Regions from separate parts of the Homo sapiens genome. Here regions 1 and 2 are each linked to region 3. The links come from fine-mapping of genetic effects on gene expression. A gene starts in region 3. Each other region holds a variant in brackets. All regions are shown on one strand. Distances are from middle to middle.

Region 1 (8,175 bases), 32 kb after region 3:
TCAATGGGCTCTGGGGCATAGGGGCTGCCCCTTGTTGTCAGGTGCCAGGGCCTGGGGTGATGAGGGCAGGGGATAGTGGGCTGGAGTGTGAGAGTCCCAGAGAGGAGGTGGCTGGGGTGTAGGCTCTGGACTGGTTGGTTTGCATATGGAAGGCAAGTCCCAAACCATCTCTAGGAACTGGCTAGAATCAATCTAGGAATTGGGAAGGGCCGTCTCCCTGGGGTCAGCCAGGCCCCAGATGTCAGAGCATCAGAAATACAGAAAATAAGTCACTGGGCGCGGTGGCTCACACCTGTAATCCCAACACTTTGGGAGGCTGAGGCAGGTGGATCACGGGAGGTCAGGACTTTGAGACCAGCCTGGCCAACATGATGAAACCTCGTTTCTACTAAAAATATAAAAATTAGCCAGGCATGATGGTGTGTGCCTGTAATCCCAGCTACTCGGGAGGCTGAGGCAGGAGAATCGCTTGAACCCGGTAGGTGGAGGTTGCAGTGAGCCAAGATCGCTTCACTGCACTCCAGCCTGGGTGACAGAGCGAAACTCCATCTCAAAAAAAAAAAAAAAATAGTCACAGTTAATACACATTTGGCTTCCAGAACATGGCCATTCATTCTCAAGGTGCCTGAAAGAAAAGGCTGGTGTATTCAAACCAGTTTGAGGAGTGCTTCACAACGGGACATTTCTAGGGGGACCAGCAGGGTGGAAGGAAGCCAGCAAGGCGTACGGCAGGCCTGGGGGTTAAGGGGATGGCGAAGCATTGTCGGGGAGGGGGCTGCCTAGTTTCACTGTAGAGGCAGCAGAGAAGGGACCAACCCAGGCTCTTATGCCTCATGCCCTCTGCCCACTGTTCATTGCCCTGATCAGCCAAACCCCACAGGAGCCCTCGATGTGCCACTGTGGGTGAGTCTTGTGGCCACAGGGCTACAGAGGTGACCACACAGCACCCATCATTGCAGGGATTGTAGGACAAGGTGCATCCACATGTCTCAGAACAACGCAACCATCGCCACCTGGTGAGGGCCAGGGGCAGCGTGTGGCCTCAGGGGTCTGCACCTCTGGGTGTGGGATCTGCCTTTTTTTCATTTTTATTTTATTTTTTGTAGAGATGGGGGTCTCACTGTATTCCCCAGGCTGGTCTCGAACTCCTGGATGCCAATGATCCTCCCACCTTGGCCTCCCAAAATGCTGGGATTATAGGCGTGAACCACTGTACCCAGCTCCGCTTAAAAAAAAAACAAAAAAACAGATTGGTTGTTTTAGAGCAGTTTTAGGTTTATAAAAATACCGAGCAGATAGTGCAGAGAGTTCCCATGTACCCCTCCCACGCCCAGGTTCTCACATTATTTATATTTTGCATTCGTGTGGTGTGTTGGTTGCACCTGACTCAACTCTACGTTGGTACTGTTACTAACAGCCATAGTTTCCATTAGGGTTCTTGGTGTTGCACATTCTTTGAGTTTGGACAAAAGTATAATGAATGTGTCTGCCGTTGGAGTGTCACAGAGTGGTGTCACTGCCCTAAAATTCCTCCATGCTCCCCCTGTTCATCCCTCCATGACCTTTGGCAGCCACAGCTCTTCTCACTGCCTCCACAGTTCTGTCTTTTCCAGGCTGTCTGTAGTTGGAGTCCCAGTGTTGCAGGCTTTTCAGACTGGCTTCTTCCACTTCACAACCAGCATTTAAGGTTCCTGCATGTCAGTTGGGCACGGTGGCTTACATAATCCCAGTGCACTGGGAGGCCGAGGCAGGAGGATCACTTGAGCCCAGGAGTTCCAGATCAGCCTGGGCAACATAACAAGACCCTGTCTCTACCAAAAAAAAAAAAAAAAAAAAAAAAAATTAGCCAGGTGTGGTGGTGTTTGCCTGTGGTCCCCCCTACGTGGGAGTCTGAGGCAGGAGAATCGCTTGAGCCCGGGAGGTTGAGGCTGCAGTGAGCCAACGTCTGGCCACTGCACTCCAGCCTAGGTGACAGAGCGAGACCCTGTCCCCCAAAAAAAGGGGAGAGGAGATTCCTCCATGTCTTTTCGTGGCTTGAGAGCTCATTTCTTTTGCTGAATTGTAGCTCATTATATGAATGTGTCAGTTTCTTCACACGTAGGATCCTGAGAGCCCCCTCAGTGGAGAGAGGGAGTTGGGGGCAGGGTCAGACCCCACCCTTTCTGGAGCCTTGACCTCTCGCCTCTTGTTAGTCCCCACAAGCTGAGGGCTGCCATGCAAATTCACTGAAATCACATCTAAGCAGTGCCTAGGAATACATTTCAGTTCCTCTTCCTCTCTGAGGTCATCAGTAAGACATTAATTGGGGTCATACAACTTAGCCCTGGTCCGACATATGTAGCCTATTCCTGTTTTCTCCTGTGCAAGTAACACAGAGATTCATTGTCATTGTTTACATCAGCTTTTAATAAAACTGCTGAGCAATTTCACCATAGAATGTCCATTTTCTTTCCTTTCCCATCCCCTCCCCTCCCCTCCTCTCCCCTCCCCTCTCCTCGCCTCTCCTCTATTCCTTTCTTGTCAGGGTCTCTCTCCGTTACCTAGAATGGAGTGCAGTGGCACAATCATAACTCACCGCAGCCTCGAGAACTTCTGGGCTCAAGCGATCCTCCCACCCAAGTAGCTGGAATTCCAGGTGTGCACCACCATGCCCGGCTAATTTTTAAATTTTCTGTAGAGACACAGTCTTACTATGTTCTCCAGGCTGGTCTCGAACTCCTGGCTTCCAGTGATCCTCCCACCTCAGCTGTTTTTAATATGGCTTGTCTTGTGTGCATTACATTATATACCCAGACCGCCCGTTCATTGCTGTGTGAGCATTTGCTGTGTGGCAGGCTATGATATAGGTGCTGGGCTATGTGGTGGCCAAAGTCAACACAAAATTCTCCCCAGGTAGAACTCGGGGAAGACTCTGGGTGACACAGGAGCTATAGAGGTTCTGAGCAGAGGTAGATGCAACCCAGCTCTGGTCTCCCGAGGCCGCCCTGGCGTCATCCCAGCTCTGAGACTCAGCCACAGTGAAACTGCCAGTGGCCCCAGTGTCCTCCCAGCAGGTGGCCAGGGGGCTCAACGGCTCTCCAGGCCAAAACATCAGTGCCTGGCATCCACACCCGAGATAAAACAGTGATCTTGAAAATTCAGCATGTGTGGCACACACCTGTAATCCCAGAGTCAGGAGGCTGAGTCCTGAGTCAGGAGGATTGCGTGAGCCTAGGAATTCCAGACCAGCCTGGGTAACATTGCAAGACCCCATCTCTACCAAAAAGTTTAAAAACTAGGCTGGGTGCAGTGGCTCATGCCTGTAATCCCAACACTTTGGGAGGCCAAGGCAGGTGGATCACCTGAGGTCAAGAGTTCGAGACCAGCCTGGCAAACATGGTGAAACCCCGTCTCTACTAAAAATACAAAAATTAGCCAGGTGTGGTGGCGAGCGCCTATAATCCCAGGTACTTCGGAGGCTGAGGCAGGAGAATGGCTTGAACTTGGGAGGTGGAGGTTGCAGTGAGCCAATATCGCACCATTGCACTCCAGCCTGGGCAACAAGAGCGAA[A/AC]TCTGTCTCAAAATTAAAAATAAAAATAAAAAATTAGCCAGGCATGGCAGTGCATGCCTGTGGTCTCAGCTCTCAGGAGCTTGAAGTGGGAGGATTGCTTGAGCCCAGAAGTTCAAGACTGCAGTGAGCTGTGATCACACACTGCACTCCAGCCTGGGTGACAGAGCAAGACCCTGTCTCAAAAAAATAACAAAAAAAATTTAGTAGGTGAATGAATGAGAGGGTAGATCCAACATTTACCATGTCAGACATTTTGCCAAATGGGACTAGGCAGGTGGGTAAATGCCTGAGCCCCGCAGAAATGACACGCCCAGCCCCAGGGTCTCAAAGTGGCACGGCCAGGAGGCAGGATTGCCACCTAGGTCTCAGTTCAGGGTCCATGTCCTCCCCACCACGTTGCTGCCTCCACAGCGCCATCTCACTAGGACCCTCCAGGGCGTGGACAAGTTTCCTGTTGCTAAGTGTTAGGGGCAAGGGAGTCTCCAACAACAGGGATTAAGGCTCTCATGGTCCTGGAGGCCAGAAGTCTGAAATCAAGGTGTCCACGGGGCCGCACTCCCTCCCGGCTCTGGGGGAGGATGCTTCAGGCCTCTTCAGCTTCTCTGGTGGCTGCAGATGTGCCCTGGCCTGTGGCCACGTCACATCAGTCTCTGCCTCTGTCGTCAGGGGCGTTCTTCCTGTGTGTCCATGTCTTCACGTGGCTTTCTTATAACAAGGACACCACTCATGGGATGTAGGGCCCATCCTACCCCGGCATGACCTCATCCTACCTAATTGCATTTGCAAAGACCCTATTTCCAAATAAGGTCACATACACAGTTTCTGGGGGTGAGGATGTGGATATAATTTTGGGGGCGGGGGGCTCAAGTCAGCCCACAGCATCCCCCATACAGCCCCACCTGGTCTGCTTCAAGTCCTACCTGGCCCCTGGCAAGTCCCACTTGGTGACATCTTGTGCCTGGGTCCTTGAGGGCTGCCCCAGATCCGCGATTGTCCTGGGGACCGGTAGTTCCTCCCCGGATGCCAGCAAAGCTCCCTCCAGCCTCCACGCCTGCACAGTCTCCAGTATGCCTTCAACAGCCATTAGTCACCCTCTGTGAGTCAGACCCCCGGTCCTGCCAGGCCAACCTGCTTGGGGCCTCAGCAGCGGGGGCTGGCGAGGCCAGTTTTCTCCAGCGGTTCTAAGCCGCTCGAGGGTGGTGCCCACGCCGGCTTCCAAAACAGGCTTGAGCCAAATCCACGTCATGGCAATAAACGTGCTTCCTGGGGCGACTGTTTGCAAAGGGATGTGATTGTCTTCACTGAGAGCTGGATTTCTCAACCTGGCTCTGCTGACATTCAGGGCCGGATCGTTCTCTGGGGAGGGAGTCATCCTGTGCATTGAAGGACATTGAGCAGCATCCCTGGCCTCCACCCACCAGATGCCAGGAGCACTCCCCACCCCGCAGGTGTGACACCCAGAAGTGTCCCCAGACATTTCATTGATTAGAGAGGTATTAACAAAATAGCTTCCCGTTGTCCCCTGGGGACAAATCACCCCCTGGGAATAGAACAGCTGTCTTTGAGTTCTTCCCATAAGACCCAATCACTGTTCATTGCAGCCACTGAGCTTTTAGAAATTATCTGTGAGTTCTTTCTGTTCTGTGCTAACTTAAGAGTCATTTTCTTTTTTTCTTTTTTTGAGATAGAGTCTTGCTCTATCGCCCAGGCTGGAGTGCAGTGGCACGATCTCGGCTCACTGGAACCTCTGCCTCCTGGGTTTGATTCTCCTGCCTCAGCCCTCCCGAGTAGCTGGGACTACAGGCGCCCACCACCGTGCCCGGCTAATGTTTGTATTTTTAGTAGAGACGGGTTTCACCATAGTGGCCAGGCTGGTCTCAAACTCCTGACCTCAAGTAATCTGCCCTCCTCAGCCTCCCAAAGTGCTGGGATTATAGGCGTGAGCCACCATGCCTGGCCCCAAGAATCTTTTTTTTAATTTTATTTATTTATTTATTTATTTATTTATTTATTTATTTATTTATTTATTTTGAAACAGAGTTTCTCTCTGTCTCCGGGCTGGAGTGCAGTGGCGCGATCTCGGCTCACTGCAAGTTCTGCCTCCCGGGTTCGTGCCATTCTCCTGCCTCAGCCTCCTGAGTAGCTGGGACTACAGGTGCTCACCACCACACCCAGCTAATTTTTTGTATTTTTAGTAGAGATGGGGTTTCACCGTGTTAGCCAGAATGGTCTCGATCTCCTGACCTCGTGGTCCGCCCACCTCAGCCTCCCAAAGTGCTGGGATTACAAGCATGAGCCACTGCGCCCGGCCATCATTTTCTAATAAGAGGAATAAGACCTCAGGCCCACTGGGTATCAGGGTTTGGGCTTCGTGATTTTCCTCCATCATCTCTAATCCCTCACGGCAGCTCTGCCCATTTTAAAGATGAGGAAACTGAGCCCCAGAGAGACACGTGGATGTGTGAGTTTCCTGAGGTGTCTATAACAAAGTATTACGGGCTGGGAGCCCTCAAACAGCAGGGGTTGATTCTCTCACAGTTCTGGAGGCCAGAAGTTGAAAATCAAGGTGTGGGCAGGGCTGGGTCCCTCTGGAGGCTCTGAGGGAGAATCTGTCCCAGGCCTCTCTCCCGGGTTCTGGTGGCTTCAGCCATCCTTGGAGCTCTGGGCTTGTGGCCGCATCACTCTGCCCTCTCCCTCCGTCGTCACCTGGTCTTCTCCCCTGTGTGTGTCCAATCTCCCTTGCCTTTCTCTCATGGGATCACCTCATCTCAAAATACTTACCTTCATGACATCTGCCAAGACCCCGTTTCCAGATAAAGCCACAGTCACAGGTTCTGGGGGTAAGGACTTAGACATGTCTTTTTTGGGAAGCCACAAGTCAACCCACTGCAGGTAGATTCCCCAGGCCACACCGCAGAGAGCCAAAGCCTAACCCGGGGTTTGAACCCGGCCTGAGCCCCAGCCCCCCGTTCAGGCTGCCTCTCTGCTCTCCCCTCTCTCGCCCGGGCTGCAGAAAGCCGGAGATCAGCACAACTCGCTGCATCGATTGGGGATTTTTTCTCAGCTCCCCGAAAGGAGAAGTTGAGCTGTTTTGAGGTTTGAGTGTCGCTGGATGCACCCCCTGACCCCCGCCCCCCGCGAGGGTTGCAGCCTCGCTGTGTAATGCTGACCAAAAAACAGGAAGGGAGCACTGTGGAAAGCCGGTTCCAATCAGCTGATCTGCCCGCCACTGCAGTTAACTGTTGCCATCACCTTTCACCAAGTCTAGGGGCTGCAGAAGCCATGAGTCTCCCCATCTTCCACATGGCCTCTAGCCTCCCAGTGCAGGCGCCCGTCGACAGCCCAGGGGCTGTGGATAGAGCACCTTACAGCATCGGCCATGGGGTCTCGCCGCAAAGCACACCCAGAACACGCTCCTCTCCCTTTGCCCACAGCCTCAGATCCACCAGGCACTCGCCTCGGTGCCCTTCTGAGAGCAGGCTGAGTCCAGGGGGCCAAAGGCTGGGGTTCCCTTCATCTGTCCTGAACTGTAGCAAGTGCAGCTGGCAGCTGGCAGCGTGCATGGGGTTTTCATTCTGAAAGCAGAAATAAAATAAGGATCCTTGCTTGTCAGGCTGTTGTCCCAAGGGTCCCTGGACTCCATGGAGCCCCTGTGGCCCGGCCCACAGTGGGACACGGTGACAGTGATGGGCTGCAGGGCGCAGAGGGACGCCCCCAGCTGGTGGAGCCAAGCTCACCCGAAGTTGTGCCGATGCCCAGGACATTCCAGTGAGGGACTGAGGAAGGGTCCTGAACGTGCCACTGCCCCAGACCCCCCTCTTGGGGCAAAGGAACCTAGGACTCGTACCCACCTGGACCGGGTCCTGAGCTCCTCCTTAGGGGCCCTACAAACCCAGTCTCATGTTTCCCCCAACTCCCCCAGCCCCTCTGCCATCAGCCAGGCCACTAGCTCTGTTCCCCCACCCACAGTCAGCACTGGGGTAGGTCACCTAGACCACAGTGCCATTATCCACTTCGACCTCTGCCCTCAAGGACACCTGCCTGGGCCACGTCCTTTCCCCCTGAGTCTGTCGGGCAAGACACAGTTGGATGCCAGCCTCCACCCAGCATTGGGGGCGTCATCTCATACGTCCTCACCACATCCTGATGTGGGCAGACTGACCACCCCCACCTGACATGTGAGGAAACTGAGGCACACGAGCTGCTCAGCAAGGGTGGCAGAGATAGAAGTTTCTGGAACCAGGTGTGTGTCAACTCTCATGCCTCTGAAGTTGAGGTTCCTGTTTAAGAGCTTATGGAGATATAATTTACCTATTTACTTATTTATAAATAGATACCTTATATTTATATCTACAGTTTATAAATATATAGATTAAATTGTATCTGCATTTTATAAATGTATAAATTATATCTGCAGTTTATAAATCTGTAAATTAAATTATATCTGCAGCCTCAAATTCCTGGCCTCAAGTGATCCTCCCACCTCAGCCTCTCAAGCAGCTGAGAATACAGGTGCACACCACCACCCCTGGCTAATTTTTTTATTTTTTGTAGAGACAGGGTTTTGTTATGTCACCAAGGCTGGTCTCCAACTCCTGGCCTCAGGCAAAAGTGTGCAATTCAGT
Region 2 (8,175 bases), 120 kb after region 3:
AGCTACTTGAAAGGCTGAGGTGGGAGGATCCCTTGAGCCCAGGAGTTTGAGACCAGCCTGGGAAACATAGCGAGACCCCATCTCTATACAATATTTAAAAATTAGCCAAGCGTGGTGGCATGCACCTGTGGTCTCAACTGCTTGGCAGGCTGAGGCAGGAGTTTGAGACTGCAGTGAGCCCTGATTGCACCACTGCACTTCAGCCTGGGTGACCGAGCGAGATCTCATTTCTTTTTTCTTTTTTGTTTTTATTTTTGAGACAGAGTCTTGCTCTGTTGCCCAGACAGGTGGTGTGATCTCAGCTCACTGCAACCTCCGTCTCCCAGGTTCAACTGGTTCTCCTGCCTCAGCCTCCAAGCAGCTGGGATTACAGGTGCCCGCCACCACACCTGACTAATTTTTGTATTTTTAGTAGAGACAGGGTTTTATTACAGGCACACACCTGTAGTCCCAGCTACTCGGGAGGCTTAGGCAGAAGAATCGCTTGAAACCGGGAGGCGGAGGTTGCAGTGAGCTGAGATCGGGCCACTGCACTCCAGCCTGGTGAGACTCCATCTCAAAAAAAAAAAAAAAAAGGGGGGGCCACAGCCAGGTGCAGTGGCTCATGCCTGTAATCCCAGCATTTTTGGGAGGCCAAGGCGGGCAGATCACTTGAGGTTGGGAGTTCGAGACCAGCCTGGCCAACATGGTGAAACCCTGTCTGTACTAAAAATACAAAAATTAGCCAGGCCTGGTGATGGGCACCTGTAGTCCCAGCTACTCGGGAGGCTGAGGCAGGAGAATCACTTCAACCCAGTAGGCGGAGGTTGCAGTGAGCCGAGATCATGCCACTGCACTCCAGCCTGGGCGACAGAGTGAGACTCCATCTCAAAAAAATAATAAATAAATAAATAAATAAAGCCCTGGTTGGTCAGCACACCAGCCTAGGTCTCACTCTGGAGTGGGCTATGCAGACCTCCCAGGCACAGAGATGGTGTCAGGGGCAGTGCAGCTGACCCCACCTGACCCCGTGCCCACCAGGTCTTCCTGAAGGAGACGGAGCGGCAAGCCCTGCAGGAGACGCTGCACCGGGAGGTGGTGCGGAAAATCCTGCTGCTGCAGAGCTGGTTCCGGATGGTGCTGGAGCGTCGGCACTTCCTGCAGATGAAGCGGGCCGCCGTCACCATCCAGGCCTGCTGGCGGTCCTACCGGGTCCGGAGGGCGCTGGAGAGGACGCAGGCTGCCGTGTACCTCCAGGCCTCATGGAGGGGCTACTGGCAGCGGAAGCTCTACCGGCACCAGAAACAGAGCATCATCCGCCTGCAGAGCCTGTGTCGGGGGCACCTGCAGCGCAAGAGGTGAGCAGAGCCGGGCCACGCTCCTCGGAATATTCCAGAAGCCAAAAAGGTCACTCACCAAATTGCTGCCCGTGATATACCATCTGGCCTGTGGCACTAAGGGGATGTCATTCTGGACACAGGGAAAGGCTGGTGGGAAACCAGATGCCTAGGCACTCATGGGCTGCAGAGAAGTGCTCCAAGGCTGGCAGGCAGCACTCAGGGACAAAGCCCTGCTTTGCCATTGGCTGCACCCATTCTCTGCCCAGGGACTCCCCTGTACCTGGATCGGTCAGGGAACACCTGGATTCAGGGTTGGAGGGGCTGCCTGGACCAGCCCAACACTCACATGGAGCTGGGGCATCCACCGGGCACAGAGAAGCCCCCAGGAGGATATCAGCAGCTCCCGTCCCAGCACCCACAGCTCCGAGCCCAGCCCCTCCCCGACCTAGGCACCCTGTTCACCTCTCCCCTGCCCACACAGACCCAGCTCTGCCACAAGTCAGGTCCCAGCTCCCGGAGCAGGCCCTACCCACACATGCAAAAGCCTCCTAGGCCAGGTGCAATGGCTCATGCCTGTAATCCCAACACTTTGGGAGGCCTAGATGGGAAGATCGCTTGAGCACAGGAGTTCAAGACCAGCCTGGCCAATATAGCAAGATGCCATCTCTACACAAAATTAAAGACTTAGCCAGGTGTGGTGGTACACACCTGTAGTCCCAGCTATTCAGGAAGCTGAGGTGGGAGGATCACCTGGGCCTGGGATGTCGAGGCTGCAGTGAGCTATGATCACACCACTGCACTCCAGCCTAAGTGACAGAGCCAGACACTGTCTCTAAAAGCAAAACAGGCTGGGCATAGTGGCTCACACCTGTAAGGCCAGCACTTTGGGAGGCCAAGGCAGGCAGATCACATGAGGCCAGGAGTTGGAGACCAGCCTAGCCAACATGGCAAAACCCCATCTTACGAAAAATACAAAAATTTGCCGGGCTTGGTGGTGCATGTCTATAATCTCAGTTACTAGGGAGGCTGAGACACAAGAATCACTTGAACCCGGGAGGCAGAGGTCGCAGCAAGCCAAGATCGTGCCACTGCATTCCAGCCTGGACAACAGAGCGAGACTCTGTCTCAAAAATAAAATAAAATAAAATAAAATAAAAGCAAAACAAAAAGCCTCCTAGAAAAAGACCCAAGGGAAAGCCCACAGTGGACCCCAAAGGAGTTTGAGGCTTCTTAATAGAACCCACCCACCACAGCCCCAACAAGGGTCCTCTCCCCTAACAAGGCAGCCAGGCAGACGCAGGGCAGGGGTATCTGTGACACTGAGGGGGCACCACCCTCAGCCTCCTTTCCTGATCGAGGAGATTCCTGCTTTCCAGAAGCATCTCTCAGGGCCACTGGGCACAGGCGAAGCCCCGTCTGCAGCCCGCAGGCTGGGGGTCCCATCGGAACTCAGTGGGAGGTGGAGGGAGTGTTTGTTTCTGAACCAGCTGTCTGCTTTTTCCTCACTCCAGCTTCAGCCAGATGATCTCGGAGAAGCAGAAGGCAGAAGAGAAGGAGAGGGAAGCCCTGGAAGCCGCAAGAGCAGGTGCTGAGGAGGGCGGACAGGGTCAGGCGGCTGGAGGGCAGCAGGTAGCTGAGCAGGGGCCGGAGCCAGCGGAGGATGGCGGGCACCTGGCATCGGAGCCTGAGGTGCAGCCAAGTGACAGGTCCCCCCTAGAGCACTCCTCACCTGAGAAGGAGGCCCCAAGCCCAGAGAAGACTCTCCCACCCCAGAAAACCGTGGCGGCTGAAAGTCACGAGAAAGTCCCCAGCAGCCGGGAGAAGCGTGAGTCGCGTCGGCAAAGAGGGCTGGAGCACGTCAAGTTCCAGAACAAACACATCCAGTCCTGCAAGGAGGAGAGTGCCCTCAGAGAACCTTCCAGAAGGG[T/G]CACCCAGGAGCAAGGGGTGAGTCTCCTGGAAGACAAAAAGGAGAGCAGAGAAGATGAAACCCTTCTAGTCGTAGAGACGGAGGCTGAGAACACATCTCAAAAGCAGCCCACAGAGCAACCCCAGGCCATGGCAGTTGGCAAGGTCTCTGAAGAAACTGAGAAGACGCTGCCCAGTGGGAGCCCCAGGCCTGGCCAGTTGGAGCGGCCGACCAGCCTGGCCCTGGACAGCAGGGTCAGCCCACCGGCCCCTGGCAGCGCCCCCGAGACCCCCGAGGACAAGAGCAAACCATGTGGCAGCCCAAGGGTTCAGGAAAAGCCCGACAGCCCCGGAGGCTCCACGCAGATCCAGCGGTACCTGGACGCCGAGCGGCTGGCCAGCGCCGTGGAACTGTGGCGGGGCAAGAAGCTGGTGGCCGCCGCCAGCCCTAGTGCCATGCTCAGCCAGTCCCTGGACCTCAGCGACAGACACCGGGCCACAGGGGCCGCCCTCACGCCCACAGAGTAAGCCCCACACCCTCTTTTGTCTGAGCACCAGGGTCCAGGCCAGGTGGGCAAGGCCAGGGGCAGTGCCACACATCCTGGAAACACATGTGTAATCATGCCCAGTGGGTGTGCGGGAGGCCTGAGGGAGGAGGACGAGCAGGACATGCTAAAGACCAAGTGAAGACAAGGCAGCCAGCCAGGGCCCAGGCTGGGACCTGGAGCCTTGAGGGGTCCCCAGAAGGAGCTGTGCTCACACAGAAAGGCCCCGGCCTTGAGAGAGGTGGCTCCTCAGGTCAAGGTCCCTGCTGCCCAGAAATCTTGGGCCTTGGTTTCTAATTGGTGAACAGGACTAACTGCACTCCTCGGGGTTAAAGGAGCAGGGGCTTGCTCTGCCTGAGCCTTAGTAAGCCAAGTGTCAGTGACTTGGAATCTCCAGCTCCCTCTTCCAGAGGGCCTGCAGGACCAAAGGAAAGAAATCAGGGAGGAGACAGGCCTTCCCTGCAGCAGGCCTGCTCAGCCTCCCACTGCTCGTATTGGGGGCCAGATCATTCTCTGCGGTGGGGGCTGTCCTGTGTATCATAAGATGTTGAGCAGCATCCCTGGCCTCCACTTACCACATGCCAGGAGTATTATCGATAGATGATGGATGGAGGGAGGGAGGGAGAGAGAGAGAGAGGGAAGGATGTGTGGGTGGGTGGGTGGGTGGGTGGATGGATGGAAGATAGAGATGATGGAAGGATGGATGGAAGGAAGATAGAGATGATGGAGGGATGGATGGATGGAAAATGATAGAGGTGATGAATGGAAGACAGATATAGATGATGGATGGATGGAAGATACACATGATGGATGAAGGGATGGATAGATAGAAGACAGGTAGTAATGATGGATAGAGGCATGGATGGATGGATGATACAGATGATGGGGAGATGGATGGATAGAAGATGGGTAGAAATTAGGCTGGGCGCGATGGCTCATGCCTGTAATCCCAGCATTTTGGGAGGCCAAGAGTTTGAGAGGAGTTCGAGACCAGCCTGGCCAACATAGTGAAACCCTGTCTCTACTAAAAATACAAAAATTAGCTGGGCGTGGTGGCGCATGCTTGTAATCCCAGCTACTTGGGAGGCTGAGACAGGAGAATCGCTTGAACCTGGGAGGCAGAGGTTGCAGTGAGCCGAGATCAAGTCACTGCACTCCAGCCTGGATGACAGAGATGAGACTCCGTCTCAAAAAAAAAAAAAAAGTAGAGATTATGGATAGAAGGAAGATAGATGCCGACGATAGATGGATGGAAGGAAGATAGGTAGGTAGAGACAATGAATGGAGGGATGGAAGATAGGTAGAGATGATGGATGGCTGGGTGGGTGGATGGATGGATGGATGGACAGACAGAAGGATGGGTGGATGGCTGGAAGATAGAGATGGAGAGATGGAAGGAACATAGAGTTGATGGATGGAGGGATGGATAGATGATAGGTAGATTATGGATGGGAGGAAGATAGAGATGATGGAGGGACGGATGGGTAGAAGATAGGTAGAGCCGGGTTCGGGGGCTCACACCTATAATCCCAACACTTTGAGAGGCTGAGGCGGGTGGATCACCTGAGGTCAGGAGTTTGAGACCATCCTGGCCAACGTGGCGAAACCCCGTCTCTACTAAAAATACCAAAAATTAGCTGGATGTGTTGGCGCATGCCTCTAATCCCAGCTACTCGGGAGGCTGAGGCAGGAGAATCACTTGAACCTGGGAGGCAGAGGTTGCAGTGAGCCGAGATCACACCATTGCACTCCAGCCTGGGCAACAAGAGCAAAACTCCGTCTAAAAAAAAAAAAAAGATAGATAGAGATGACAGATGAAGAGATGGATGGAAGGCAGATAAAGAGGATGGATGGGTGGAAGATAGAGACAATGAGTCAATGAGTAGAAGGATGGATGGATGGATAGATAGATGATAGATAGATAGATAGATAGATAGATAGATAGATAGATAGATACATAGATAGATAGATGGGCAGGCAGGCAGGGTCTCTTGGGCTAAGGCAAGGTTTCCTACCCTCCACACTCAACATCTGGGGCTGGCTCACTCTCTGGGGTGGAGACCATTCTCTGTAGGGTATTGAGTAGCATCCCTGCCCTCCACTCACCAGAGGCCAGAAGTACCCACCCACTCCTTTCCCCCCACCCAAGTGGTGACAACCAAAACTGTCTCTAGACATTGCCAAGTGTCCCCTGGCAGGGGCAGAACTGCCCAAGTGAGAACCCAAGAACCACTAAGACAAGAAAATGCCACTGACTCACTCTAGTCAGTAAAAGCCATGTTTCTGTGATCTCGCAGGGAGAGGCGCACCTCCTTCTCCACGAGCGACGTCTCCAAGCTCCTCCCGTCCCTGGCCAAGGCTCAGGTAACAACAACACGGCAAAACCCCGTCTCCACTAAAAATACAAAAATCAGCCAGGCGTGGTGGCGCTTGCCTGTAACCCCAGCTACTCAGGAGGCTGAGGCGAGAGAATCGCTTGAACGCAGTGGCAGGGTAGAGGTTGTAGTGAGCCTCGCGAGACCAGGCCACTGCACTCCAGCCTGGGCAACTAGAGTGAGACTCCGTTTCAAAAAAAAAAAAAGCAGGAAGTGAGGTCGGTGGATGGAGTGTAAATGCCTGCAGGGGCTTCCCCATCTAGCACAGGACTGCCAGCCTTTCCTTAGCAGCCCCCCACTGCACCGTCTTGCAGCCTGCAGCAGAAACCACGGACGGAGAGCGAAGTGCGAAAAAGCCAGCTGTCCAGAAGAAGAAGCCAGGCGACGCATCCTCCCTCCCAGACGCAGGGCTGTCCCCGGGCTCTCAGGTCGACTCTAAGTAAGTATTGGGCTTGGGGGAAACTCAGGCCACCAGAGGATGCCCGGGGTCCCTGCCAGGGCCTCGCAGCAGTGTGGCCTCCTAAACCAATCACGTTTACAAAGCACGTTCGCAAAGGCATTTGCTCAGTAGAAACTGAATGGGGAGGCCAGGCAGTGGCTCACGCCTATAATCCCAGCACTTTGGGATGCCGAGACGGGTGGATCACTTGAGGTCAGGAGTTGGAGACCAACCAGGCCAACATGGTGAAACCCCATCTCTACTAAAAATACAAAAATTAGTTGGGCATGATGGCAGGCACCTATAATCCCAGCCACTCGGGAGGCTGAGGCAGGAGAATCGCTTGAACTCGGGAGGTGGAGGTTGCAGTGAGCTGAGATCATGCCACTGCACTCCAGCCTGGGTGACAGAGGGAGACTCCGTCTCAAAAAAAAAAAAAAAAAAAAAAAGCCTCTAGGGCAGGATCCTTCCTGCCTCTTCTGGCTTTTGGGGGCTCCAGGTGTTCCTTGGCTTGTGGCTCCATCACTCTAATCTCTGTCTCTATCGGCACTTGGCCTTCCCCTCAGTGTCTGTGTCTTCTGTCTTCTGTCCCTTAAAAGGACACGTGGCTGAATGGATGCAGTAGGTCACGCCTGTAATCTCAACACTTTGGGAGGCCAAGGTGGGATGATCACTTGAAGCCAGGAGTTCAAGATCAGCCTGGGCAGCGTGGCAAAATCTTGTCTCTGCAAAAAAATTTCAAAAATTAGCCAGGCAGGGCGGTGCATGCCTGTAGTCCCAGCTACTCAGGAGGCTGAAACAGGAGGATCCCTTGAGGCCAAGAGATCAAGCCTGCAGTGAACTGTGATCATACCACTGCACTCCAGCCTGGGCAAGAGAATGACACTCTGTCTCAAAAAAACTTTTTTTTTAACTTAAAAAGATAATGAGCTAGGCGCATGGCTTGTACCTATAATCCCAACAACTCAGGAGGCTGAGGTGAGAGGATCATGCTCGTGAGGCCAGGAGTTTGAGGCTGTAGCGAGCTATGATCACACCACTGCACTCCAGACTGAGTCACACCCCAACTGGAACAAAAAGAAAAGAAAATGGAGTCCCCCTGTGGCTTCTGTTTGGTATCCTTCTTTCTTCACATAACTCCCCTGCCAGTACAAAGAAAGGGCTATTGCTCTTTATAAGATAATCCTGTGTTGTTTTTTTGTTTGTTTTTTTTTTGAGACAGAATCTTGCTCTGTTGCCCAGTCTGGCAGTCTGGAGTGCAATGGCTCAATCTCCGCTCACTGCAGCCTCCACCTCTCAGGCTCAAGCGATTCTCCTGCCTCAGCCTCCCAAGTAGCTGGGAGTACAGGTGTGCACCACCATGCCCAGCTAATTTTTTTTTCTTTTTTTTTCTTTTTTTTTTTTTTTGTATTTTTGGTACAGAAGGGGTTTCGCTATGTTGCCCAGCCTGGTCTCAAACTCCTGGGCTCAGCTGATCCACCCACCTCAGCCTGCCAAAGTGCTGAGATTACATAGGCGTGAGCCACCATACCCAGCCAGATCCATTTTTGTTTTTGTTTTTTGTTTTTTTTTTTGAGACAGAGTCTCACTCT
Region 3 (8,166 bases):
CAGCCAAGTGAGATTGTGACTTTGACCATATCTTTGTTCCAGTTGATTCTTCTGTTGGGGACTGGGGTTGCAGCTGCTACCCTGAGAGGAAAGGAGGTACCCTCAGAGTTAACAAGGATCCTTCAGTCAGCCAAAGGGCCGGGCTGTCAATCTGGGCAGCCCCAGGGTAGGAATGCACCATGCCTGCAGAGCGAGTGTGGGTGCAGGTGGGTGCCCGGCAGATGTGGACAATCGGAAGGCCACTCTCATGGTGCAGGTCTCCAAGGGCTGAGGCCAGGACCAGGTGGGGTCCCAGGGACAACCAGGCCACAAAAAGAGTCTACCCTGGATGGTGATCGAACAGCTGAGAGAAAGGACATCCCCAGCTCCCAGCAGAAAGACCATCCAGCCCGGGTCTTTCTAGTAGCATCAGGAAACAGTTTTGCTCAACAAGGAGGATCTCAGGCTTGGGCTGCCTTGGACGGTGGGGAAACAAAAGCACTTTCAAGTTTCCTGAAAACTAGGATACAACTGTTTATTTTAAACAGCCTGGCTAGGTGCGGTGGCTCACACCTGTAATCCCAGCACTTTGGGAGGCCGAGGTGGACGGATCACTTGAGGTCAGAAGTTTGAGACCAGCCTGGCCAACATGGTGAAACCCTGTCTCTACTAAAAATACAAAAATGAGCCAGGATGGTGGCAGCTCCCAGCTACTTGGGAGGCTGAGGCAGAGAATCGCTTGAACCTGGGAGGCGGGAGCTACAGTGAGCCGAGATCACGCCACTGCATTCCAGCCTGGGTGACAGAGCGAGACTCCATCTCAAAAAAATAAATACAAATAAATAAACAGGCTGAATTTTCCACAGAAGCAATATTATGAAGAAGGATACAATTCTTGTCCAAGAACGAGGTAGCTCATAAATATTATAGCTGTTATATGCGAGATTAACATGCGATGTTTAGAATTTGGGAATAAGTGGTCAGGAAATAAAAAGACAACTTACCCAGCAATGCTGAAACATACAAACCTTGCCTCACTTGGAAATAAAATCCTGCTCTAAGCTCGCTGAATTGGGCCCTGCGACACTGCACACACTGAGAAAATACCTCATTGTATCATAGTCTTGGCCTCCAATGATGGACTCTAGAATCTACCATGCAAGCCGAGCATTTCCTTTTTTTTTTTTTTTTTTTTTTTGAGATGGAGTTTCGCTCGCCACCCAGGTTGGAGTACAGTGGCGCGATCTCGGCTCACAGCAACCTCCACTTCCCAGGTTCAAGCCATTCTCCAGCCTCAGCCTCCTGAGTAGCTGGGATTACAGGCACCTACCACCATGGCCGGCTAATTTTTGTATTTTTAGTAGAACGAGGTTTCACCATGTTGGTCAGGCAGGTCTTGAACTCTTGACCTCATGATCCACCCACCTTGGCGCCTCAAACTGCTGGGATTACAGGCGTGAGCCACCGTGTCCAGCCACATTTCCTTTTTTTTTGTTTTGTTTTGAGACAGAGTCTCACTCTGTCGCCCAGGCTGGAGTGCAGTGGTGCGATCTTGGCTCGTGGGGGAGGCCGTTAACGGTGATCCCAGACCGATAGGTGGAAATCAGATGTACAGGCACCCCTCATGAGACTGACACGCTCACGCAGTGGGAATTGAGAGTTTGATTTTAGGCCGGGGGCAGTGGTTAATGCCTGTAATCCCAACACTTTGGGAGGCAGAGGCGGGAGGATCACTTGAGGTTAGGAGTTCGAGACCAGCCTGGGTAACATAGTGAGACCCCAACTCAAAAAAAAAAAAAAAAAAAGGCAGAGTTTGATTTTTGATAATGATCTCCATGGTCTCCACACCCACGCTTCCAGGGGACATGTCCCGGACACAGCCCATGACCCCCATGGCTGCCAAGGGAAGCCACTGCTCAAAATGACCACCACCATTCCTGACACAGCCCTCGCCACAGGGCTGGGATGGCCAGACCCAGAATCCCCACAGGTGTGACTACAAGGAAGTAAAGCCACAGGCCCCCTTCTCTGGCCTGTTTTTTTCTTCCTCCAAAAGCACGTAATGAAAGAAGAAAACCATGTTCCTTAAAGAGATCCTGACACTGCTTACCTTGAACTCTTTTATCCTTCTTCTTGGCACTGCTAGAATTTGTGGGGCCGGTTGCAGGCTTCCTGCAAGAGAAGAGAGAGAGGTCTTGTTCACCTCACTACCCAAGAAGCACAGGGAAGCCGGCGAGGTGCCTCTGCTAGTTGAAGCTCAGACAGCCCAGTCCAAGGGCTGCCAGAGGACAATTTCAGTGAGGGTGGGCCACCTCAACAGGAAAAGGGACACAAGGAGCAGCCAGCCCTGGTCACCTGGGCAAGAAGGCATAGGTGAACACCCAAACTGAGAAGAGAGGAGGGTAATGAGAGCTCTGTGGAAGAGATCACAGCAGATCTCAAATTATCCCTGGGTTCATTCATTCACCAGACATTGATGCACCTACTATATTCCAGTAGAGACACAGTGGTAACAAAACACAGAGCTCCTTCCCAGAAAGGGAAGAACAACATCTTGACAGGCAGGTACGAGGAGTGGTCCCAGCAGGTACCTCACTTTGGGAGGCTGAGGCTGGCGGATCACGAGGTCAGGAGATCGAGACCATCCTGGCTAACATGGTGAAACCCCATCTCTACTAAAAATACAAAAATGAGCTGGGGTGGTGGCATGCGCCTGTAGTCCCTCCTACTCAGGAGACTGACACAGGAGAACTGCTTGAACCCGGGAGGCACAGGTTGCAGTGAGCCAAGATCACGCCATTGCACTCCAGCCAGGGTGACAGTGAGACTCCGTCTCAATAAATAAATAAATAAAAATAAAAATAAAAATAAAAATAGAATGAAGCCTGATGTAATAGGAAAGAAGGGACCCTGAGATAGGAATCGCTGACTCATCAGCTGTGGGGGTGCAGGAGAGGGAGAATCTGGGATGACTAGGGGTTTCAGGGTTTCAGCCTGAGCTGGTGAGAAAAGAAGGGATCCAAGAACAGACACCAGCAACACAGGAGGGGCAAGTGGATGGGCAAGTGGAGGGGCAGGGCCAAGGCCAGGGCACTGTAACTCCTGCTCCCATCACCAAAGGCGGCTCCACTGGTCCCTGCGGCCACCTCCTCTGAAGCAGGCTCCCAGGACCCCAAAGTGAGACCCAGACAATGTTGGGGACACTTCCAGGCCACCGTGGGGAGAGGCAACTTAGCAAATGTTCGCCAGGTGCCAGCAGCTGCGCTCGCCCGTAGGCTCCTCCTAACCCGACAGCTTCCTAACTGTTCACACCTGCTTTTTCGTCGCTGCAAAACAAAGACGCACAGGTTTTACATAGGTCACCCCCGGGGCAGTCTCACAGCCAGAAAGAGACAAGAGCACAGACTCCCTCTGGGGACTGTGCTAGGGCTGTGGCCTCAAACCGAATGGGCTCCTGGGTGAACCTGCTGCGACCTGAGGGGGGTCCCTACAACCTGTGCGAGCCTCAGCTACTGCACCTGTACCTGGGAGGTGCTACTGTCAATCTATCGGTTACGGCAAGGGGCGGTGGAGTGATTCCTCTTGCTGGCCAATTTCACTTCAGTTTGCACCTGGCACAATCAACACTGGCAGAATTAACAAAACTAGACAAATATAGCCTCATGATCATTCATGCCTAGCTCTCGGTCAGTATTCAACTTCTTTCTTGTTCATGGTGTGTTACCCTAGGCAAGTCACTTCCCCTCCCTGGGTCTCCATCATCTCCTCAGTAAACTGGGAGCACAGAATAAAGCGCGTGGGAGGATTAAAGGGGACACTTTGGTCGCCCAACACTTGTTCACTGCATAACGATAATTCCAAGAGCGACATCACAGTAAAGACCCAGGCGCCGATCTAAGCGCGTTTCAGCCTCACGCGACGCCTACGAGGTTGAGCTGCGTCATCGGCCCCATTTCGTAGCGGAGGAAAGCGAGGCACTGGGCGGTCAGGCCGCTTGCCGGAGGTCGCCCAGCGTCCCAGCCGAGGACGCGGAACTCAGGGCCGGTCGGGTGTCAGCGCTCCGGAGCATGCGCAGAGGCAGCACGCCATCGGGGTCTTCAGGGGCCCGCGCAGTTCCTGGCGGGGTCGAACCCGAACTCACCCCGAGGGTCCTAACTCCCCACCTCCGCTGCCCATCCTCTCCAGCCCTATGGCGTCTACAAATCCAGACCTGCGGAAGCCCCAACTCACCCAGCGCCTCGCCCCGAGGAATCCGCCATTTTCCCGCCTTCCACCTCAAGGCCCGACCCGCCGGCTTTTCAAAGCCGGACCCGCCCCCTTGCTTGCGGGTCGGACCATTTGTGGAGACGCAGGAGGGGTGGCTGCGAGGCGTGAGGCAGCGCCGGCTAAGTGTGGAGAGCGCGGCCCCAGACGCGCGCTTCGCCTGTCCTCCCCTCGCACTTGGTCTCGCCCACCATCGGCGGTAGTGGGTAGGGGCGGTGGGTGGGACCTGATCTGTCGGACAGTAGGGGCGGGGCTTTTCGCGATGCCCCGCCCCTAGGAGCGCTGGCGTCACGCCCCCGTCCCCGCCTCTCCGGAACCCGGAAGCGGGAGCGCGCGGGGGAGCGGCGGGCGCGGCGGGGCGGAGCGGCTCGAGCAGCGGCGGGCTGGCAGGCGGTCGTCCGGCCGGGGACCCGGCCCGGGACCGGCGGCGCGCGGCGGCCGAGGCCAGGTGAGTACCAGGCAGCCTCGGGTTGGCGACTCGAGCTCGAAGCCTGCCTTTGGGGGCTGCGCAGAAGAGGGACGGAGCTGAGGGCTGATGGGGGACGCGACGGCAGGGGTCGAGGGGGCGGGAACGAGCCTGGGGGTCTTGGAGAGATTGCTGGGGATGAGGTGGAAGCGAGACGGTGAAGGAGAAAGTGGATGGGGATGGAGCTGGTGAGGGAGTTCGAGGGCGTGGGGGGGGTGAGTCTTGTGGCTTTGAGCAGCTTCTCTGAAGAGGACGTGGCTTAAGTGGTAATTGGGGGGTCGCAGGAAACGGCGTTGTGGGGAGGCACGGAGGCGGGAACGAGAGGCCCAGGCTGGGGGAGTGGGCAAGGCCAGGGGCGGGACAGCCGGGGTGCGGTTGAGGGGAAGGGGTGCGAGACCGATCTGGGGACGTCTGCCCGCGCGATTGAAGGAAGGGTGTCTGAGAAGAGGGCGGCGCCTGGCCCCCAGTGGGCGCTCAGTAAATGCGGGGGGTTCTGAACTAACTGATGCGGCAGCCGGCTATTGGGAAGCGGGGAAATGGGAGCTGGAAGGGAAGTAAACGGAGTAGAAGTCACGGTAAGAACTGAGGGTAGGCTTAGGGAGGGAGGGCCCGGAGAGGAGGGAAGAGAAGGAAGGGGTTAGAGTGGCCCCGTGCAGATAGATGTTGAGATGCAGCCCCTGGAGATTCCGTCCCCCCACCCTCCCCTCTTGATTCGTGTCCCTCCTGACTTCACACTTAACAGCTGGGTGACCTGGGACGAGTCCCAACACCCTCTGTGCCAGTGTCCTCGTCTTGGAAACTTCACCACCCTCCCCTTAAGACAGGACTAGCAGGATTCTGGGATTCCCTGGATCCAAGGAAGGGACCTCAGGGCCGGTTGTGGGGCCGGAACTGTGTTTCAGGAGGGAGTGTGCATGCACCCTCATGTACAGGACTGTCGCCACCTCCGCAGAGCTGCATCCTTGGACTTAAATGGGTAAAACGACATACAGGAAATCTGTCCCCCGGTTGCTCTGAGCTCAGCCCTGGAGAGGCACGACAGCCACGAGCCCTCCTTTCTTTCCTGGGCACCCTGGAGGCCAGGGGTCTTTAAGGGATGGCTTCTCTGCCTCTTTGTCTGAGGTGGGAGCCCGTGGGGACACTTTCCAGCCAGAGAGTCCCAACTCGGTTTGTTTTTTGATGTTGGAGTCTTCAGAATCTTAAGGTGTCCAGGAGCAGCCGGAGGTGACCTGGGCTACAGGAAAGTTATTCACATCTGACAGGCCTGGCTCTTGTGGCCCTGGCAGGGACTTTGTGCAGGGTGCTTTTGATTGGCATTCATTTCTCCCCTTTCCCAACTGTAGGGATCTTTATCTGGGATCTGCCAGAAGGGCTGGGGAACCCCAGCTTATGTTTAGTTTATAGCTCATTCAGGAGATGAACCCGGATAGCTGGAATATAAAGAGGGCCACAGAAAGATAAGCACCCCCTTCACTTCCAGAATATCCTGGCCTTTAGGAAAGGTGGCTTTGGCCTGGCTTGCCCCAGGACATGCAGTGACAGCCCACAGTCATGCCTCCTGCAAACATTGAACTGTAGGCTTGCACTGGCCTACAGAACAGGACCGGGATCTTCTGATCCCGCAGCCCTGCAATCGCCTCTTCCCTGCCGCTAGAGAATGGCCAAGCAGGGTCTTGTGGGGGGAGCACTGTGTTGGAGATCCTGGCTTTGGTCAAGTCTCTGTGCCTGTTTCTGACCTCTCACCTGCAAAATGAATGAATTGACCTCCATCAGCGTTTTTCAACCTTGAAACCCAACTCTTCTCATCACCGTCTTGTCTCCAGTCCATGTCCCCCAGCTCCCGGCCTTGAACTCCTCACAGCACCCCCACTCTCCATTCCTGGCTGCGATGATCCTACTTTTATTCCGTTTTCCATTCGACAGTTTGTATCCAAAAATGATTTTTTTTCAACCGCTTCTTCATCGTCCAAATAGAAAATTGCGGTGTTGAAGGTGCTTTTGCACATTGCACCTATTCCCAAAGCTTTGGAAACTGCAAATTTCTGGAAATCCCGAGGCAGTACCGTCCCTCGGGTCCAGTCTGGTGACTCAGTGGAGCAGGTAGAGACGTGGGAATCTCCCCTTTCTGTTTGGCTGTAGGATTCGTTATTCTCTCCCCACATGGACTTGTTAACTTGCTGCTTCCCATTCCTCATCTCTTCCAAATGGTGTGTCTTGGGTGGGCCTAGATTTCAGTTAGGCAAGGGTTGATTGTGCCAGACACTTGGTAGATTCCTGGGGACAGAGGTGAATCCTTATGACCCAGAGGACGGACACGCTAATGCCCGCCCCCGACAACTTTGCACTTCCTCTTCAGAAAGAATGGAGTTCAAGCTGGGCCGCGGTGGCTCAGGCCTGTAATCCCTTTGGGAGGCCAAGGTGGGTGGATCACAAGGTCAGGAGTTCAAGACCAGCCTGACCAATATGGAGAAACCCTGTCTCCACTAAAAATACAAAAATTAGCCCGGCGTGGTGATGTGCGCCTGTAGTCCCAGCTACTCTGGAGGCTGAGACAGGAGAATTGCTTGAACCCAGGAGGCGGAGTTTGCAGCCAGCCAAGATTGCGCCATTGCACTCCAGTCTGGGTGACAGAGCAAGATGCCCTCAAAAATAATAATAATTAAAAAAAAGAATGGAATTCAGATCAGGTCATCAGTACGGTGACAGAGGGGCCACAAGATATTATGGGGGGAGAATTAGGGACAACCAATGCAAGCTTTAGGACAAGGGGGATTCCAGCAAGTTTCCTCGGAAGTAGTGGCTGGCCCCAGGTCAAACCTGGAAAGATACCACGTGTTAAACCACTCCGGGTGGAAGGGATTGCACAAGCAGATACCTTTGAAGCCCGGCCTGTACAGGGCATCCCAGCTCTCTCATTCTGCCAACCGGCAGTGCGAGGGTCCTTGTTCTTATCTTCCTGATACAGAAACAGGCCCAGGCAGGTGATGACTTCAGAGATGGTTCCTTGAGCTTTCTAGAAACATGCAGGATCCTTAGTAACCTTTAACTGGGGAAACCCAAATCTCCAGGGCCGTTTCTCACCCGCATCACCATTGACAGTTGGGGCTGTGCACTGTAGAATGTGGAATAGTGTCCCTGGCTGTCACCCATGAGATGCCAGTAGTATTCCATCCCCTCCAAGGGGTAACAACTGAAAATGACTCCAGCCATGGCCACGTGTCCCCTGGGGGCAGAATCACCTCCCCCGCCAGGTGAAATGTGATGCTCATTAGTAAAACCTGGTTCCCCTCTAGGGCCCATCATTGCCTTGGTGGGTCCTTGGTGTTTGTGGAGCCCCTGAGGAACTGCCACTAAGAGTGGGAACAGGGGCAGAGACCAGGAACTGAATCCTGCCATCCAGTCAGTTCTTAATCAGGAGGGAGCGGGTCTTGATAAAAAGGAGGAACCGTTAGGAACGG

What was found. PIP is the estimated chance that this variant, and not a neighbour inherited with it, causes the effect.
Region 1: its variant is the best candidate, but not a certain one, in a credible set for the expression of MYO9B in lymphoblastoid cells (GTEx, PIP 0.55).
Region 2: its variant is the best candidate, but not a certain one, in a credible set for the expression of MYO9B in whole blood (INTERVAL, PIP 0.58).

Annotation. Positions count from the first base shown.
Region 1 is chr19:17,103,504-17,111,678 of GRCh38, forward strand. The region is part of intron 2 of MYO9B (myosin IXB); the gene reads left to right. Among named protein-coding and RNA genes, the nearest start is that of SNORA118, 15 kb to the left of the region's middle. RefSeq lists enhancers at 636-685, 4,747-4,796, 6,829-6,938, 6,902-7,403. The variant A/AC (reference allele first, on the strand shown) is at 3,551.
Region 2 is chr19:17,191,726-17,199,900 of GRCh38, forward strand. It overlaps MYO9B (myosin IXB), which reads left to right. Exons shown (of 40, transcript NM_004145.4): 21 at 1,021-1,337; 22 at 2,831-3,748; 23 at 6,067-6,133; 24 at 6,459-6,583. Among named protein-coding and RNA genes, the nearest start is that of USE1, 20 kb to the right of the region's middle. The variant T/G (reference allele first, on the strand shown) is at 3,247.
Region 3 is chr19:17,071,185-17,079,350 of GRCh38, forward strand. MYO9B (myosin IXB) reads left to right here and starts at 4,593. Exons shown (of 40, transcript NM_004145.4): 1 at 4,593-4,690. It overlaps HAUS8 (HAUS augmin like complex subunit 8), which reads right to left and starts at 4,268. Exons shown (of 11, transcript NM_033417.2): 1 at 4,210-4,268; 2 at 2,090-2,151. The coding sequence starts at 4,238. RefSeq lists an enhancer at 4,011-4,210 and silencers at 4,391-4,740, 4,735-5,029.